Regions from separate parts of the Homo sapiens genome. Here region 2 is linked to region 1. A link means that fine-mapping ties the variant in region 1 to the expression of a gene that starts in the linked region. Tissue or cell type: fibroblasts. Region 1 holds a variant in brackets; the other region holds the start of a gene. All regions are shown on one strand. Distances are between the middles of the regions.

What was found. PIP is the estimated chance that this variant, and not a neighbour inherited with it, causes the effect.
Region 2: PARP8 starts here. The variant in region 1 is fine-mapped to the expression of PARP8 in fibroblasts (GTEx, PIP above 0.99).

What each region holds. Positions count from the first base shown.
Region 1 is chr5:50,590,815-50,599,152 of GRCh38, forward strand. No RefSeq gene overlaps it. Among named protein-coding and RNA genes, the nearest start is that of PARP8, 72 kb to the right of the region's middle. The variant G/A (reference allele first, on the strand shown) is at 4,603.
Region 2 is chr5:50,662,280-50,670,617 of GRCh38, forward strand. PARP8 (poly(ADP-ribose) polymerase family member 8) reads left to right here and starts at 4,358. Exons shown (of 26, transcript NM_024615.4): 1 at 4,358-4,907; 2 at 5,792-5,846. The coding sequence starts at 4,817. RefSeq lists silencers at 4,201-4,350, 4,401-4,460, 5,153-5,482 and enhancers at 4,633-5,545, 4,981-6,180.

The DNA.
Region 1 (8,338 bases):
CACTAGGTGATAAATCTTCAACTAGGACTTAAATATCTGGCTGAGAATTCAGTGTTCTTTTCATTTAAATCACATTGCTTCACAAAAATAGATCCGCAGGAAGAATAAAAATGTCCAAAGTGCAATGAGACAGAGAAGATAATATGGAGACAGACATATTGCACAGAAAGCATTTGACCATATGTCTGCCTGGTCCCCTTCATGTGTTTTGTTCATAACTTACTTTACTCGGGCAGCAGGAGATAGCATAACAACTGTCAGAGTGAATTTAGGCCACAGTTTTGTGTTGCTGAATGTGTTGAGTCATTTCCCTTAGTTCACATTTCTACCTAACTTTATCTTTTAAGTCATCATCATGGCTTTAATCTCTTCTTTATTTTGACTGTTAAAATTTTGTAGCCATTATCCAAATAAAATATTTATTTTCACTCATGAGTCCCTAATCTTTCCCCAATGGAATTAGCTATTTATTTGATGCAATAGCTAGACCAGTAGGGTTAAAAATGCTTTTATAAAGACATTAATAGCTGGGTATGGTGGTGTGCACCTAGGGAGGCTATGGCAGGAAGATCACCTGAGTCCAGGAGTTTGAGGCCAACGCCTTCACAACATAGTGAGATCCTGTCTTTAAAGTAAAAATTTAAAAATTAAAAGAAAAGACATTTAAAAAGGTTGTTTACCAAAATGATGGTTAACTGACAGAAAATAGAAACTGAAACTAGAAATCATTGCCATCAGCTTTCTCTAATGTGTACTTGATCCTTTTCTCCATGTGATGAAAGTTGAAAGTCTTTTTTTTTTTTAATCCACTACTGTTCAAATGAGAATAAACAGCCAAATGACTGAATTAGTTGGTAGACATAATTCCTAGCCTTCAATTATTTTTATATTCTTTTGTAATACAGTCATGATTTTTTCAGGCTTCTATAATATTGCATTTAACCAATCCCCAAACAGGGAAACGTTATGTAATTTTTCTATTATTTACAGTTCCTTGATTATAATCTTTTATTTGAAAAGATTATATATTTATATAAAAACTCAGTTTCTTTCTTATATATAAACATTATTAGTAGTCTAAAAATGTCATTCTCAATAAAAAGGATGAGTGAACTTGAGGACTAGAGAATCAGGTAGTCACCATCAGAGAACTGGTTTAACAAACAGAAGGGGCCTACCCAGATACAGAGAAGTCAGGCAGGGCTGTGGTGTGAAAATGTTAGAGAAGCTTGATGGGAGGCCTAATATAGTTTGTCTTTACACCTGTATATTTTGCTTCTTGCATCTGCTTGAATGCCCTCTGTCATTTATTATAACTAGATTTATTGTTCCAATAGGTTTGTACTACAGTCAGAACAAACAAATCACTGGATCCAGCAGAAACCTTAGATATATGACATAACAGAGATTTGCAGAAAGATTTGTCCCATTGCCTTCTCGAATTTCTCTTATCATCAGTCCATCTAGCTGGAGCTCTCTGAAGGTCATCAGAGGTCAGTATAATTTTAATAAGATTTTAACTGAAGGATAGCCTTGATGTTCAGTGACCTTCAGACATGTTTGTTTATAATTGAGAAGCCACTCCCCCTGTTGAATGATAACCTCTTCCATGAATTACCAAACCAATGCTGCTCACATTTTGATTAACCATTGATTCCCATAAATCCAGCGTCCCCCAACACTGATTATCTAAATAACCTGAATTATTTGCATTGCCTTATCAATTCCATCTCATTTCCTGTCTTGGTGGTTTTGCTCACACTGCTTCTATGTGGAATGTCCATATGTACCCACCCGAGTTTCCACTTCATCATTCCATCATCTGTAGTCCACTATCCATCATCAGGACTAATGTGAGCTGACTTTCCTCCAAAAAGCTTTCCCTGAACTTATCCTAAAATAACATTTTTCTCTGCTAACTTACCATTTGTCATATGTTCGTATACAGCTTCTCTAACTGTCATGAAATGAAATAAATGGGAGGAAGATGAAACTTGAAAAGAAATCTGCTCCTTAAGGCAGGCCCTGGGGGAATAGGCCTGGCTGGAGGTAATGTAAGGTCTAGATGGTGTTTTTAGAATCTGAAGACTACAACACCAAACACAACAAGTATAAGCCTAGGCAAGCTGTCAGTGCAAGGCCTAAAATTAGGTATTTCAACAAGTGGATGAATCAATTTGGGGAATTGTATTAGTAAACAGAGGAAGCCTGTCCAGTAAAAGGGAGGGTAAGCAGGGATGCAGTTTAAAACTATTGAGGAATAATGGCTAAGAAATAGCAAAATTAACACATGGCCTAAAATATTAAGAAATTAAGCCTGTTATTGAATTACTGACCAGGCTAGTATATAGGAGCATTAACAACACAAAAACAGATTAGGTCACGATTAGCAGTGGGGGTGAAATAATCTTCAGGGCTGAAATACTGAGCTAGAAATATTTAAATCCTCCTTGCAGATGAAAAATATAGAGGACAATTTGTTGGTTCAGCATGAATTTCTAGTCTTTTGTTAAGAAGCTAGAACAGAAATACTCTCTTTCATTGCAAGTGAACATTGAGGCAGTAAACTCCAAATATAGCTGCAGGTACCATCTCCTGCTGATTTGTGTGTATAGAGCATGAAAGAAAGGCTCAGAAACAAAAGCATGTCGGAAAAATAAGCAGGAGGCATTTACTTGCAAAGAAATGTGAGGAAGTCAGTCTTCAAAAGAACTGGCCCAAAAAATTTAAAAAATAGAATTTTTTAAAACAAACAGTATTGTGAAGACTATAGGCTTTATATTAGTCTCTTCATGGCAGAAAACAGCAATTTTATCATGGTTATTGTATTCAAAAAGTTCATGACATATCTTCAGACAATAAATAGCATTGTAAAGTCAAGGATAAAGTAATTTTCATTAAGGAGTTAGCAACTCTCAGGAAATGCTCAAGGTTTTATTCATTTGGAGGACTGCAAGTAAACAGAGAGACTCTTTTATTGTTTCTTTATGTCAGAGTGCAGAGGTTTTTTTCTCTGTTTCTTCAGCAGTGGGACATGATGTACGGGCTGACAATGGTGTCAGGCCCAGATGTCACTTTGGTTTTTACACTTCATCTTGTGGTCATGTTTCCTCCTCTACAGGACATGTTTGTCTACCTACATTTGCTGAACAATGTTCCTAATCAGTACTATTGATTTTACATTTTACTTTGAGCCATTTTATTTGCACAGATCTAAGAAGAAGTGTTGATTATATTAATTTAATGACCTCCTAGTATTTTTTTGACGAAACAATAAACTAAGGCTTACAAGTTTATGTCTATCTATAGATTTATAAAGCCCTTGTGGTTTAAATTTACTTTTACATGTTTAACAGCTCAGTTTAGAGCAGACCAAACCAGTCAGCTCACCTCTACCTGATTTCACCTGCAGTATTTATAATGCAAATGTATCCTTTTTAATAAAAGATATCCAGATGTCTTGATGTCCCTGCTCTGCCAAGAAAGGACATTCTTTTTAACCTCCAAGCCTGAGATTGCATAGTCCATACAGCATGTACCAGACTGGTTTCCTAGAAGGATGTTATAGGCATCACTTCTGCGTGAAAAACATAGAAATTATTCTTATTACTGGATTTGTCTTGTCTAATTTAATTGAATTTGTAGCACAGCTATAAATTTTTTATTAAAAAATTAATTCTTCCTGGCCAGGCAAGGTGGCTCACGCCTGTAATCCCAGCACTTTGAAAGGCTAAGGCGGGCAGATCACCTGAGGTCAGGAGTTTAAGACCAGCCTGGCCAACATGGTGAAACCCCGTCTCTATAAAAATACAAAAATTAGCCTAGCATGATGGTGGGTGCTTGTAATCCCAGCTACCCAGGAGGCTGATGTGGGAAAAGTGCTTGAGCCCAAGACTGGAAGTTTGCAGTGAGCTGAGATCATGCCATTGCACTCCAGCCTGGGCAAAAGAGCAAGACTCCATCTAAAAAAAAAAAAAGATTTTTCTAATTAGTTATATATTCAGGTAGAAGGGAGGACAAATTCTTATTGAACCAATACAAATAACTACATAGTCACAAAAAGTAAATGTTTTTATTAAAGAAACTTTGTGTAAGAATTAACCAATATTGCTAATTAAGAGTATGTTAATAGACAAAACCAAATATTGTATGTCACAATTCTTTACAAAATAATTATTTGTATGTTTTTCTTGGCAATTTATTAGCTTTGTTTTTATATTAAGAATTTCTACAAGGTATTTTTTTCCTCAACACTAAGAATTCAGAGTGTTTTATTTAGTTTTTACAAATTCAATAATTTGTAAATTTAATTGGAGGTTAAAGATAGATTAAGAAGAAAGAAAATGGGTTTCTCTCATGTTCATTAAAGTAGAAAATTAAACTAACCTCAATTAAATCGCTTTATTGAGGTCCTTTAATCCTAAATAACAACCTCTTGTCATGCTGGTCTTGAGTTAAGCAGTCTGCTTTCATGAATTCATCTGCTTCTACATTGTGAGTGTCTTGGAAATCCTGACTCATTTACTTGGTATAGTTGGAATATTGTTTGTGGGGACAAGGTCAGCCTATTCTTGGAGGCCTATATCCATGAGTCAATTTCCT[G/A]TGGTATCAACAGTATCAACAGTGTCTGCTACGGTTTTTACTGGAGCTCTTTTGATATTTCTTCCAGATGACTTAAATTCTGATTGGCGCTTTGTAGAAAGGCTTTTAGGTATGCTTAAAGGGAAAGAAGGGCTGGGCACAGTGGCTCATGTCTGTAATCCCAACACTTTAGGAGGCTGAGGCAGGTGGATCACTTGAGGTCCGGAGTTTGAGACCAGCCTGGACAACATGGTGAAACCCTGTCTCTACTGAAAATAGAAAAATTAGCCATGCGTGGGGGTGGGCACCTGAATATAGCTACTCAGGAGGCTGAGGTAGGAGAACAGCTTGAACCCGACAGGCAGAGTTTGCGGTGAGCTGAGATCACACCACTGCACTCTAGCCTGGGCAACAGAGAGAGATTCCATCTAAAAAAAAAAAAAAAAGCAGCGGGGATAGGGGGAGGAGATGTTGTTGATAATAAAACTGTAAAGTTTGGTTAATTTTTTGTCATAGCAAACAACATCACAATGGGGGATAGTGGCATTCTCTGTTGAGGCATAATACATACTCATTTAATGAAATTTTAATCAGTGATTACCATAAAAGACAGAACACATTAAGAACAATTAGTGCATCCTGATACCTCTCCAGGGCCTTTAATTTTCCCCACAAAGCAGATATTATTATTTGTCACCAACTGATGTTTACTTCTTTTTTTTAATTATTGTACTTTAAGTTTTAGGGTACATGTGCACAACGTGCAGGCTTGTTACATGTGAATACATGTGCCATGTTGGTGTGCTGCACCTATTAACTTGTCATTTGCATTAGGTATATCTCCTAACGCTATCCCTCCCCCCTCCCCCCACCCCACAACAGCCCCCGGTGTGTGATGTTCCCTTTCCTGTGCCCATGGGTTCTCATTGTTCAATTCCCACCTATGAGTGAGAACATGCGGTGTTTGGTTTTTTGTCCTTGCAATAGTTTCCTGAGAATGATGGTTTCCAGCTTCATCCATGTCCCTACAAAGGACGTGAACTCATCATTTTTTATGGCTGTATAGTATTCCATGGTTTATATGTGCCACATTTTCTTAATCCAGTCTATCATTGATGGACATTTGGGTTGGTTCCAAGTCTTTGCTATTGGGAATAGTGCCACAATAAACGTACGGGTGCACGTCTCTTTATAGCAGCATGATTTATAATCCTTTGGGTACATACCGAGTAATGAGATGGCTGGGTCAAATGGTATTTCTAGTTCTAGATCCCTGAGGAATCACCACACCAACTTCCACAATGGTTGAACTAGTTTACAGTCCCACCAACAGTGTAAAAGTGTTCCTATTTCTCCACATCCTCTCCAGCACCTGTTGTTTCCTGACTTTTTAATGATCACCATCCTAACTGGTGTGAGATGGTATCTCATCGTGGTTTTGATTTTCATTTCTCTGATGGCCAGCGATGATGAGCATTTTTTCATGTGTTTTTTGGCTGCACTAATGTCTTCTTTTGAGAAGTGTCTGTTCATATCCTTCGCCCACATTTTGATGGGGTTGTTTGTTTATTTCTTGTAAATTTGTTTGAGTTCATTGTAGATTCTGGATATTAGCCCTTTGTCAGATGAGTAGGTTGCAAAAATTTTCTCCCATTCTGTAGGTTGCCTGTTCACTCTGCTGGTGGTTTCTTTTGCTGTGCAGAAGCTCTTTAGTTTAATTAGATCCCATTTGTCAATTTTGGCTTTAGTTGCCATTGCTTTTGGTGTTGTAGACATGAAGTCCTTGCCCATGCCTATCTCCTGAATGGTATTGCCTGGGTTTTCTTCTAGGTTTTTTATGGTTTTAGGTCTAGCATGTAAGTCTTTAATCCATCTTCAATGAATTTTTGTATAAGGTGTAAGGAAGGGATCCAGTTTTAGCTTTCTGCATATGGCTAGCCAGTTTTCCCAGCACCATTTATTAAATAGGGAATCCTTTCCCCATTGCTTGTTTTTATTAGGTTTCTCAAAGATCAGATAGTTGTAGACATGTGGCATTATTTCTGAGGTCTCTGTTCTGTTCCATTGGTCTATATCTCTGTTTTGGTACCAGTACCATGCTGTTTTGGTTACTGTAGCCTTCTAGTATAGTTTGAAGTCAGGTAGTGTGATGCCTCCAGCTTTGTTCTTTTGGCTTAGGATTGACTTGGCAATGTGGGCTCTTTTTTGGTTCCATGTGAACTTTAAAGTAGATTTTTCCAATTCTGTCAAGAAAGTCATTGGTAGTTTGATGGGGATGGCATTGAATCTATAAATTACCTTGGGCAGTATGGCCATTTTCACGATATTGATTCTTCCTATCCATGAGCATGGAATGCTCTTCCATTTGTTTGTATCCTCTTACATTTTGTTCAGCAGTGGTTTGTAGTTCTCCTTGAGGAGGTCCTTCATGTCCCTTGTAAGTTGGATTCCTAGGTATTTTATTCTGTTTGAAGCAATTGTGAATGGGAGTTCACTCCTGATTTGGCTCTCTGTTTGTCTGTTATTGGTGTATAAGAATGCTTGTGATTTTTGCACATTGATTTTGTATCCTGAGACTTTGCTGAAATTGCTTATCAGCTTAAGGAGATTTTGGGCTGAGACGATGGGGCTTTCTAGATATACAATCATGTCATCTGCAAACAGGGACAATTTGACTTCCTCTTTTCCTAATTGAATACCCTTTATTTCCTTCTCCTGCCTGACTGCCCCGGCCAGAAATTCCAACACTACATTGACTAGGAGTGGTGAGAGAGGGCATCCCTGTCTTTTGCCAGTTTTCAAAGGGAATGCTTCCAGTTTTTGTCCATGCAGTATGATATTGGCTGTGGGTTTGTCATAGATAGCTCTTATTATTTTGATATATGTCCCATCAATACCTAATTTATTGAGAGTTTTTAGCATGAAGCGTTGTTGAATTTTGTCAAAGGCCTTTTCTGCATCTAATGAGATAGTCATATGGTTTTTGTCTTTAGTTCTGTTTATATGCTGGATTACGTTTATTGATTTTCATATTTTGAACCAGCCTTGCATCCCAGGGATGAAGCCCACTTGATCATGGTGGATAAGCTTTTTGATGTGTTGCTGGATTCAGTTTGCCAGTTTTTATTGAGGATTTTTGCATCAATGTTCATCAAGGATATTGGTCTAAAATTGTCTTTTTTTGTTGTGTCTCTGCCCAGCTTTGGTATCAGGACGATGCTGGCCTCATAAAATGAGTTAGGGAGGATTCCCTCTTTTTCTATTGATTGGAATAGTTTCAGAAGGAATGGTACCAGCTCCTCCTTGTACCTCTGGTAGAATTTGGCTGTGAATCCATCTGGTCCTGGACTTTTTTTGGTTGGTAAGCTATTAATTATTGCCTCAATTTCAGAGCCTGTTATTGATCTATTCAGAGATTCAACTTCTTCCTGGTTTAGTCTTGGGAGGGTGTATGTGTCGAGGAATTTATCCATTTCTTCCAGAGTTTCTAGTTTATTTGCATAGAGGTGTTTATAGCATTCTCTGATGGTAGTTTGTACTTCTGTGGGATTGGTGTTGACATCCCCTTTGTCATTTTTTATTGCATCTATTTGATTCTTCTCTCTTTTCTTCTTTATTAGTCTTGCTAGCGGTCTATCAATTTTGTTGATCTTTTCAAAATAACAGCTCCTGTATTCATTGATTTTTTGAAAGGTTTTTTGTGTCTCTATTTCCTTCAGTTCTTATCTGATCTTAGTTATTTCTTGCCTTCTGCTAG
Region 2 (8,338 bases), 71 kb after region 1:
GTATAAATCTGTCAACATATGTACATCTGTGTGAAGATATGAGAATGCAGTAATGCAAGACATTCCCACAAAGTTATTAACACTAGTTACCTCTGGGACGAAGAGTGAAATTAGGGGTCAGGATAGGTAAGAATTTTCACATTTTACTTTATGTACTAATATATGTCTTAAATCATTTGCGCTGAGAATATATTCATATAGTATTTATGTACTTTCTAAGAAAAAGAAAAAGAGGTATTCAAAAGAAGGAATTAATATGAATGAATACAAGCTAAGAATGAGTTTGTTTGCATGGCACAGTGAGGCATCTCATCTAATTATGGTCTAGAATGCTTCTAGGTAGAAAGGGGAATTAAAATTTTACAGGAAAAATGGATCTAAATTAAAGTGAAATTTGGAACTAGAAAGAAGAGTTAAGGTTTCATCCTGTAGCTTTAGTATTACCTAGGTTAGTTAAGATGCTAGAAAGGGCCATAAAACCTCAACACCACCCCTGTGCCGTCACATTTGACCTTAGTAACCTAACGGGGGGTATGGTAAGAACCAAAATGTGACAAATCCACAAAACATCACCTAAAGTTCTCCTTCAGCTTGTCAAGTTTATTCAAAGTTGACTTTGGTTTTTTACAGTAGACCTATCAGAAGAGGTCAGAAAAGTAGGATTAGTTTCCAAAGGCAGCTTTTTCTTTTCTTTTTTAAGAAACAGGGTCTCCCTCTGTCATCTCAACTAGAGTGCAGTGGTATAGTTACAGTACACTGCAGCCTCAAACTCCTGTGCTCAAGAGATCCTCCCAAGTAGCTAGCACTACAGGTATTCACCCACATGCCCAGCTAATTTTTATTTTATTTTTTGTAGAGACAGGGGTCTTGCAATATTGCCAAGGCTGGTTTTGAACTCCTGACCTCAAGCAACCCTCCCACCTCAACCTCCCAAAGTGCTGGGATTACAGGCATGAGCCACCACACCAGCCAAGCAGCTTTATAAGGAAAGAATTGCACACGTCCCTCTACTTAGAAGAAGGTAGTTGGGCCCTTAGCAGGCATTTTGAATTTTACGGATTTCTTTCCATTACAGAACCACCGCAAGCAGAAGCTATATCAATCTCATAATTAGAAAGAACTTTTCAGATCATCTTCCTTCCAGTGGCTCTCCATTTTTCTCAGATGAAATCCCACTTCCTCACCTTTGTTTAAAGGCCCTTTGTGGTGTCTTCTCACAGCAATGCCTCGGCCCCTACCTTGTCCCTCCTTCACTGATTCTGCCACAAAAGCAAACTGTCCCAGTGCTGTTTCCACATCCCAGCAAGGATGGTAGGCATTCCCATGGGCATTTACCACTGATGACACTATCATGCATATGGCAAAGAAGGCTGTTCCCCTCTTTGCTAATCCTGCCTCCTATCCTCTTCTTAATAACCATGGAATAGCAGAGGTCAGGCTTGTACTTTTCTTAAGACTGTACTAATGGCTGGGTCATTTGGGAAAGGAAGTTGAATGCAAGAAAGGGAAATATAACTGCCACTAGCAGAGGCTATTTTGAGAGTCCACAGGCTTCAGCCCTCCTCAAAATCCATCATAGGGCTTCTTGTCGGCTTCACTCCTGGCCTGCAGCCATTGGCGGGGCGGTTTACTTCCTCGTGTGGCTTCTGTACATATTTATTCCTTTAAGTTCAATTCAATTGCTGAAAGGTTTCAAGAGAGAAAAAAACTTCTTGTAGTCCATGTCTCACCTTAGATGAATTAACCCCTTTGAGCCTGTTTCCTCTTTTGTAAAATGAGAAAAATAACAGCTAGTATATACGGGTTATTGTGAATATTAAATGAGTAACTATATGTAAAGCTTTTAGAACAGTTTCTACCAGTTCTGGATAAATGTTAATGAATTCTGGATAAGTTCTGGATAAATATTAAGTTCTGGATAAATGTTAGTTATTAATACCCACATCACATTATTGAACTTAATGCCGCATGTCCATTACCTTATACTTCCGCAGTTGGGCCTTTTGGCACAGGCAAAAAATTTATATTTTTCACTAATAAATTATATCTGGTGGCTTTGAATCATTATTCTAAACCGGTGGAATTTTTTCAGTAGAGTCTATCATCCAACATGTAGATTATTATCTTCAATTTAGTTTGGGATACCACCTGAGTTCTCCCTCACTGTAAATATTGATTTTATTTATTTAACAAATTGGTGAAGGGCCTCTTATGTGCCACGTTCCTGAATGCATGTGTGTGTATGTTGTATACTCATGAGTGTTTAAGGAGAGATAGAACTGTTTCATCTCAAAGGCGCATATAGTTTTTGATAAGGGAAGTATGTTGAGCACACATAATATAAACATTTAAATATTCGGAGATGGGGCAAGGTAAAGAAAGGATCCTGGATATGGGCTGACTTACTTTGAGCAAAGTGCTCCATAAGGATCTAGCCTGGAAGATCCTTGGAAGGATCTACGTTGGTATAGTTTTTAATTAGAGAAATTTATCTTGCAGAAATACATACTAGATAGGTTTTTATTTTTTAATCTTACTCCTTCAAATGTACAAATATTTATTAAATACATCACACCTTAAGGGCATGAACAGGGTGAGGTTAGCTTTGTTTAACCAAAACAGGGCAGCCCATGAAGCTTAAAAAAAAATCAAATATAGGACAAGTCACAAGAAGGCCTATTTTAAGGAGTGAGTAGTAAACTAAGAGCTCATCCAGACAAAAAAATATTTGGTAGCTTTAAAACTATTTCACATTTATTTGTAGTAAGGGTTCTACTTGGAAGATGCAAGCCTTGTGGCTAGATAACTATAAAATAAATTCTTGTGAGTTAATAGACTTTCAGCCTTTCAGAGAAATTAAAGCACATAATGGAAGAAGAAATACTCATGATTCTCAGTGGTGATGTGGAAGAGAAGAGAGCATTTTTGGCAGCCAAAGGGCCTACACAAAGCAACATATCCAGGAAGGACAAAGGGCTTGAACCTGTCCTACCCTAAACAGGAAGCATTTCAGGAGAGGACTGAGCAGGAGATATAGACTGTTGTGACTGTGGCTTTACTACATCAAAGGCTGCAGTGGATCTCAATAATGCAGAATGTTTCCTTTTGTAACTCATAGTGAATATGACTGGACAAGGAAATTATTTTGTAATTTGTTTCCTGAAAGATAAAGGAGTTAGAACATAGGATCTTTCATTGATTCTACAGAATCTTAAGACTCCTTCAGGGATGGCAGTCATTCCTACCGTGCTGAACATCATGTTGTCACGGTCAGAATCAGAACTAAATTGATTAAGGGTCTGAAACAGTTTGGCAACTCTTGGGCACTTATGCTGATAAGAAAAGTGATGAGACAGGGTAATGAAAAGAGGCTGCAAGAAATGACCATTCGTGCATTCAGCCAACATTTAGGCCACCCTCCTGTATTCCAGGCACTGTACATGGCACTGAGTATGCAAAGCAAAAGGAGTCATGGTCTACTGGCGGGAGCCTTCTCAGTGGAGAAAAGATCAACAAGAAAAGTGCCTGCTGGAGACCTCTCCTAGGGCATAAACCAATATAGAGGTGGGGCAGCTACGTCAGCCTGGGGTGTCCTTAGGCAGAACAGAAAGTGAGAATCAGAGCAGTATCTCATTTCTGAACACCTGGATTGTAGCTTTCCCTTGACTGTCAAAGGAGGTGGTTTTAAAAATCAAGCCAAACAGGTTTCCATCTTTTAGGAAGACCCTGGAACGTGCCAGTTGATTCTGACCATTTCTCATGAACAGAAACACCTAGGAAGGGAGAACTGGTGAGTTTCAAGAGGAGGAAGTCCCTCAAAAGGGGCTGTGTTTCGTAAACGGCGCCCCAAAAGGGCTGAACTACTTCGATCTGGAGGAAAAAGACTCAGGCACTGAGGGAAGGGGAGGGTGCACGTCTGGAGTAATTTTAAGGCCTTTTCCGTGTTATGTGATGTGGCAATAAGGAAAGATTTGTTCGTTTTATTATTTTTTTAATTTTTAAAGATTTTCTTTTCCCCCCTTTTCCCCCTCCCAGCCACTCCGGTTTGGGTTTGCCACAAGACTATAATTCCTTTAGAAAGTGGAGTCGAATTCATAAAAGTGATGGGGGGAGGGGCGCGGAGAGGGAAGGCTGGGAGCCCCAGGGAGTCTTCACGACCGCTCAGCTCCCGGCGCGAGTGGAGGTCGGTGTGGGGAGAAGCGGCTCCCGCCCGGGATGGCTAATACTCTGCGAGCCCCGGCAGCCCGCGGCCGGCGGGGTGACTAGGCGGCGGGCGCGGAGGGTCTGCGGCGGGCGGGCGGCGCTGCAGCAGCCTGGGCACGGCTGCCGCCGCCCGCGGGCGCGAGTGTGCGCGGGTGTGGAAGGCCGGCGTGCGAGCCGTGAGGGGTGTGCGCGCGTGAGCCGGAGCGGGGCTCGCCCCTCGCCGGCGCCCGCCGCCCAGCCGGTGATTGCTCTCTGGCTGTCCCCGGCACCTCGGCCCCCACGGCCGTTGGTCCGGGCGGGTGAGGGAGAAAGTGAGACTTGGTGTCATCACCATCCATTGTCAGAAGGGGAGGAAATTGGAATCCAGCAGCGGCGAGCAGCAGCTGGGCGGTCACATCTGGGAATGCAAAGCCGACCTCCCCCTCCTCCTCCTCCTCCCCCTCCTCCTCCTCCTCTTCTCTCACCCAGGATCACTTCCGAAACCACTTCGCCTTCAGCCCCTGCCTCGGCCAGAGGTTTCATTTTTAACTGAATATTTACGAAAGCTGGAAGCGTGCGAGGGGGGTGGGGTGGGGTGGAAATAGCGGCTGCTTCTTTTCCAGGGATTTATTTAATGGGGATGTGTTCAAGGCAAGAGCGAATTCAGAAGGATATCGACGTCGTGATCCAGAAGTCCAGAGCTGAGAAGGACTGCCTGTTTGCAGGTGAGTTCTTGCTTTTCCAGAACCTCGGACCCAGCGCCCCCTTCCCAGTTTTCTGACCGCGACGTCTGTGGCTGGGGGTGGGGTGGAGGGTTGCACGTCCCCATTCTGGGGTTCATTTGGCAACAGCTGCTGCAACGAGCGCGGGAGCCAAAAGGGGGAGGGGGCGCCAGCCTCTCCCCTTCCCCTCCCCCACCGCCAAGTCTGAGGCAGCCACCAGCTTTGAGGGCAGAGCCCGCGTGGCCGGAGCGGGGGTCTAGGCGAAGGGGCAGTGCGTGGTATTTCCAGCCCCGCGTAGTGCCCGAAGCCTCCAAGCACGCTTCCTGGGTTCCAGCAGCGGCGGCAGAGCGGGGTTGGTTTGCGCAATGGGCTGAGCGGCGGCGGCCGGGAATGGAGCCTGCTGCGCTGCGCTGCGCTTGTAAGCTGCGCCCGGCGCCGAGGACCCCCGGGGGGCAGCGCTCGGCCCATCTCCGGCCCCTTCGGCTCCCTCTAGTCCCCTCCGACTGGCAAAGAGAAGGGATTCCTCGGATTCCCAAGGCACCCAGCGCCCCTGCCTGGGGGTCGCCTTTCGTCCATTTTGCTCCCCCGGGATTTTGCTTTCGCTACCGCGAGCCCGGCTGAGGCTGCTTCCGGCCTCCCCTATCGGGAAATTCCCGCTGTTGCCATGGCACCCGGCACTTGTTGCGGGGGGCGGCCTCCCGCTGCACCCAGTCGGGGGCGCGCCGCATCCCCTCGGACGCGGCGCAGAGGGACCTCGCCGCCCTCTAGCCCTTGCCTTCTGCCCGGCCAGGCCTCCCCTGACACCACCGAATGTGGGGCTCAAGTCCTGATCGGGGTTAAAACAAATCCACTCCAGGGGTAGCTTTTGACGGGACTTTCTGTTTCAGATTTCAGATACTCTGACTCCACCTTTACTTTTACCTACGTTGGCGGCCCCAGAAGGTATTTATGTGTATAGAGTTGCTTCATTTCCTGTTCACACTCTTGTGTTTCCTTTGTTCTTAGCGTGTTCCGTGTTCGGGTATTTTGGTTGCTTGTTTGTTTGATTATTGTGGCTTTTCTTTACCTGCTACCCAAGCCTGACGTCCCTCGGTTTTAAATAGCAGGAGGAGGGGAATCAATGTTTGATTCAGGTGTTTCGAGGACCACGCCACAGGCAATGAGCAGAACTCTTCATGTTGAAACTGTTCTGCTACAGTACTAGATTGCTCTCAGGCGATTTGGGGTTGATACAGGCACGCCGGTGCAAAACTGGAATACTGGATATGAAGTGAAATGTATAAAAGACATAAAATGTCACAAAATAGTTTGATCAGAAGTGTTGATTTTCCTGGTGAGTTGGGGCTGCGTGTTTCCATGTTTTCTGAAGGTTTACATAAACATGCAGCCTGCCAATTCTCTGTACATTTTTTTTTCAATGAGTGGTATTTCGGTTTTCACGTATAGAAATTGGAGACTTATATGTAGCTGGAGTGGATGACTTCTTTCTTTTGGGGGAAGAATGAGAGATGCACATTTCGTTAGTAAATTGTGAACAACTTGAAACAAACCCAAATCCAATTTTGAATTTAGGAAGTAGAGTTAAAATGAAAGGTAGCCATTCAAATACTATGCCTTGCTACCTTCACTTGTTGAGTTAGGATTTTCTTCCTTTTAGCCCTTTAGGGACACAGTAGTTTAAAAGAGCAGTAGCCACATATGAGAAGTACCAGATTTAGCTTAGAGGGAATTCCTTAGACCAGCCCTGCTGTTAGGACTTGACATTCAATATTGTTTGATCACATTCCAAAATATATCTTAGCTAATGGAAACATTTATAAACATATAAATTGCAAAAGAAGCTTTCTTGTGTACATACATTTTTAAAAGCTTGAAATTGATGTGAACTTTTAAAAACACGTAGGATCTGTATTACATTATACATCTCAAAACATTTAAAGTGAATATCATTCCAGTATATGCAATATACCTAAGCCCCAGAATTAGCACATTGATTTACTAGTTGAAAATATAACAGTGAATCACCAAACTTAAGTGTATACTTTTTGGGAGAGAATGAAATTACAGTATTTCTTAATTTACTGTAATGTCATCTTTGTAATTATGAATTAATAATTCAATGAGAGGAGACTTGGTTGATTAAATTAACGCTGGTCCTACACATTATATCTAAAGGATCTTCGTATATGACTAATATCCTCTTGGATTATTTTAACAGTTAAAATATACAAAGTGGCCCATTAAAAACAGAGTTGACTTTTCACTATTGCTGTTTTTCTGGTGAGACATGTGGACAGGAAGGACAGGTGGGCTTTTCAAGTAACTAGCTTTCTGATTTTTAATAAGATACCTCAGTTCTTTTGGCCTCAGTTTACTTATCTGTACAATCAAAGGGTAAATCATATGCTTAATCACTAAGATCTGTTAGATACTGCAGTTAAGATTCTTTATCAGCAAATTATTGGACTCTAGTGTTAACATAGCTAGAGGTGGAAAAGGGAGCAAGGCCAGGTGTTGGGATGAATAATTAAGCGAGATAACATCAGTTTTCACCATAGGAAGAAGTACCATGGTTGCTCTTAAAGTAAGAGATGTTTCCTATTTTATGTAATTTTATTAAAGGATAGTGTTTTCTTTTGTCACTGATTTAAATGTACCTGGCTGTTTCTCAGCCATTTGGCTAAGATCGAGCACAAGTGTACCTGAGCCTTTTATATCTAATCTAATGTAGACCAGCCTGTTAAAAGAGAAAGACAATTGGTTAAACTGCTGATGTGTTGCTTTGTCTTCTCAAAAGCTTGTTCTAAAATACAATATGTAAAAAGTTGTTACAGTGTAGTAACCGTAGATAATCCCTTTATGATTTGTACCTAATGGCGAATACCTTTTATTTTCTGAAAATAACGTATTTGTTTTCATTACCGACATTATAAACCAATATTTATTAATCTATTTCTTATCCTGACATTTCAGTCAGACTCTTAAAATAATCTTGCTGTGTTTTGATTTAATGTGCTTATCAACTTGTAATATTGAATTAATAGTATCATTTTAGGTGAACTAGACTTTATTGAAGGAGGTGGGAGCCTTATGGAGAGAGAGTATATGATTATCTCTATTTGTATTTAACTACCATTTCATCTAACCATTAAGAACATATTTCAAGAATAATTTTAATTCAAGTTGTAGATAAAACTTACTATACCGTTTTCTTTTTGATGCTTTCCAAGAATGAGATACATGGTATTTTAAAGACAAAGATTGATCTTACATGTTACTATTAAAAAAAAATAATAATTTTGTTCTACATTTATACTTTTAATTTTTCTGTGGATAATAAGAAATGCCAAGAGGCGATTGTGTCCATGCTGGCAAGTGGCCTAATAAATTGTCCTTTTATTTGGTGGTCCTCAGAGTGGCAGTTAACATCTTGC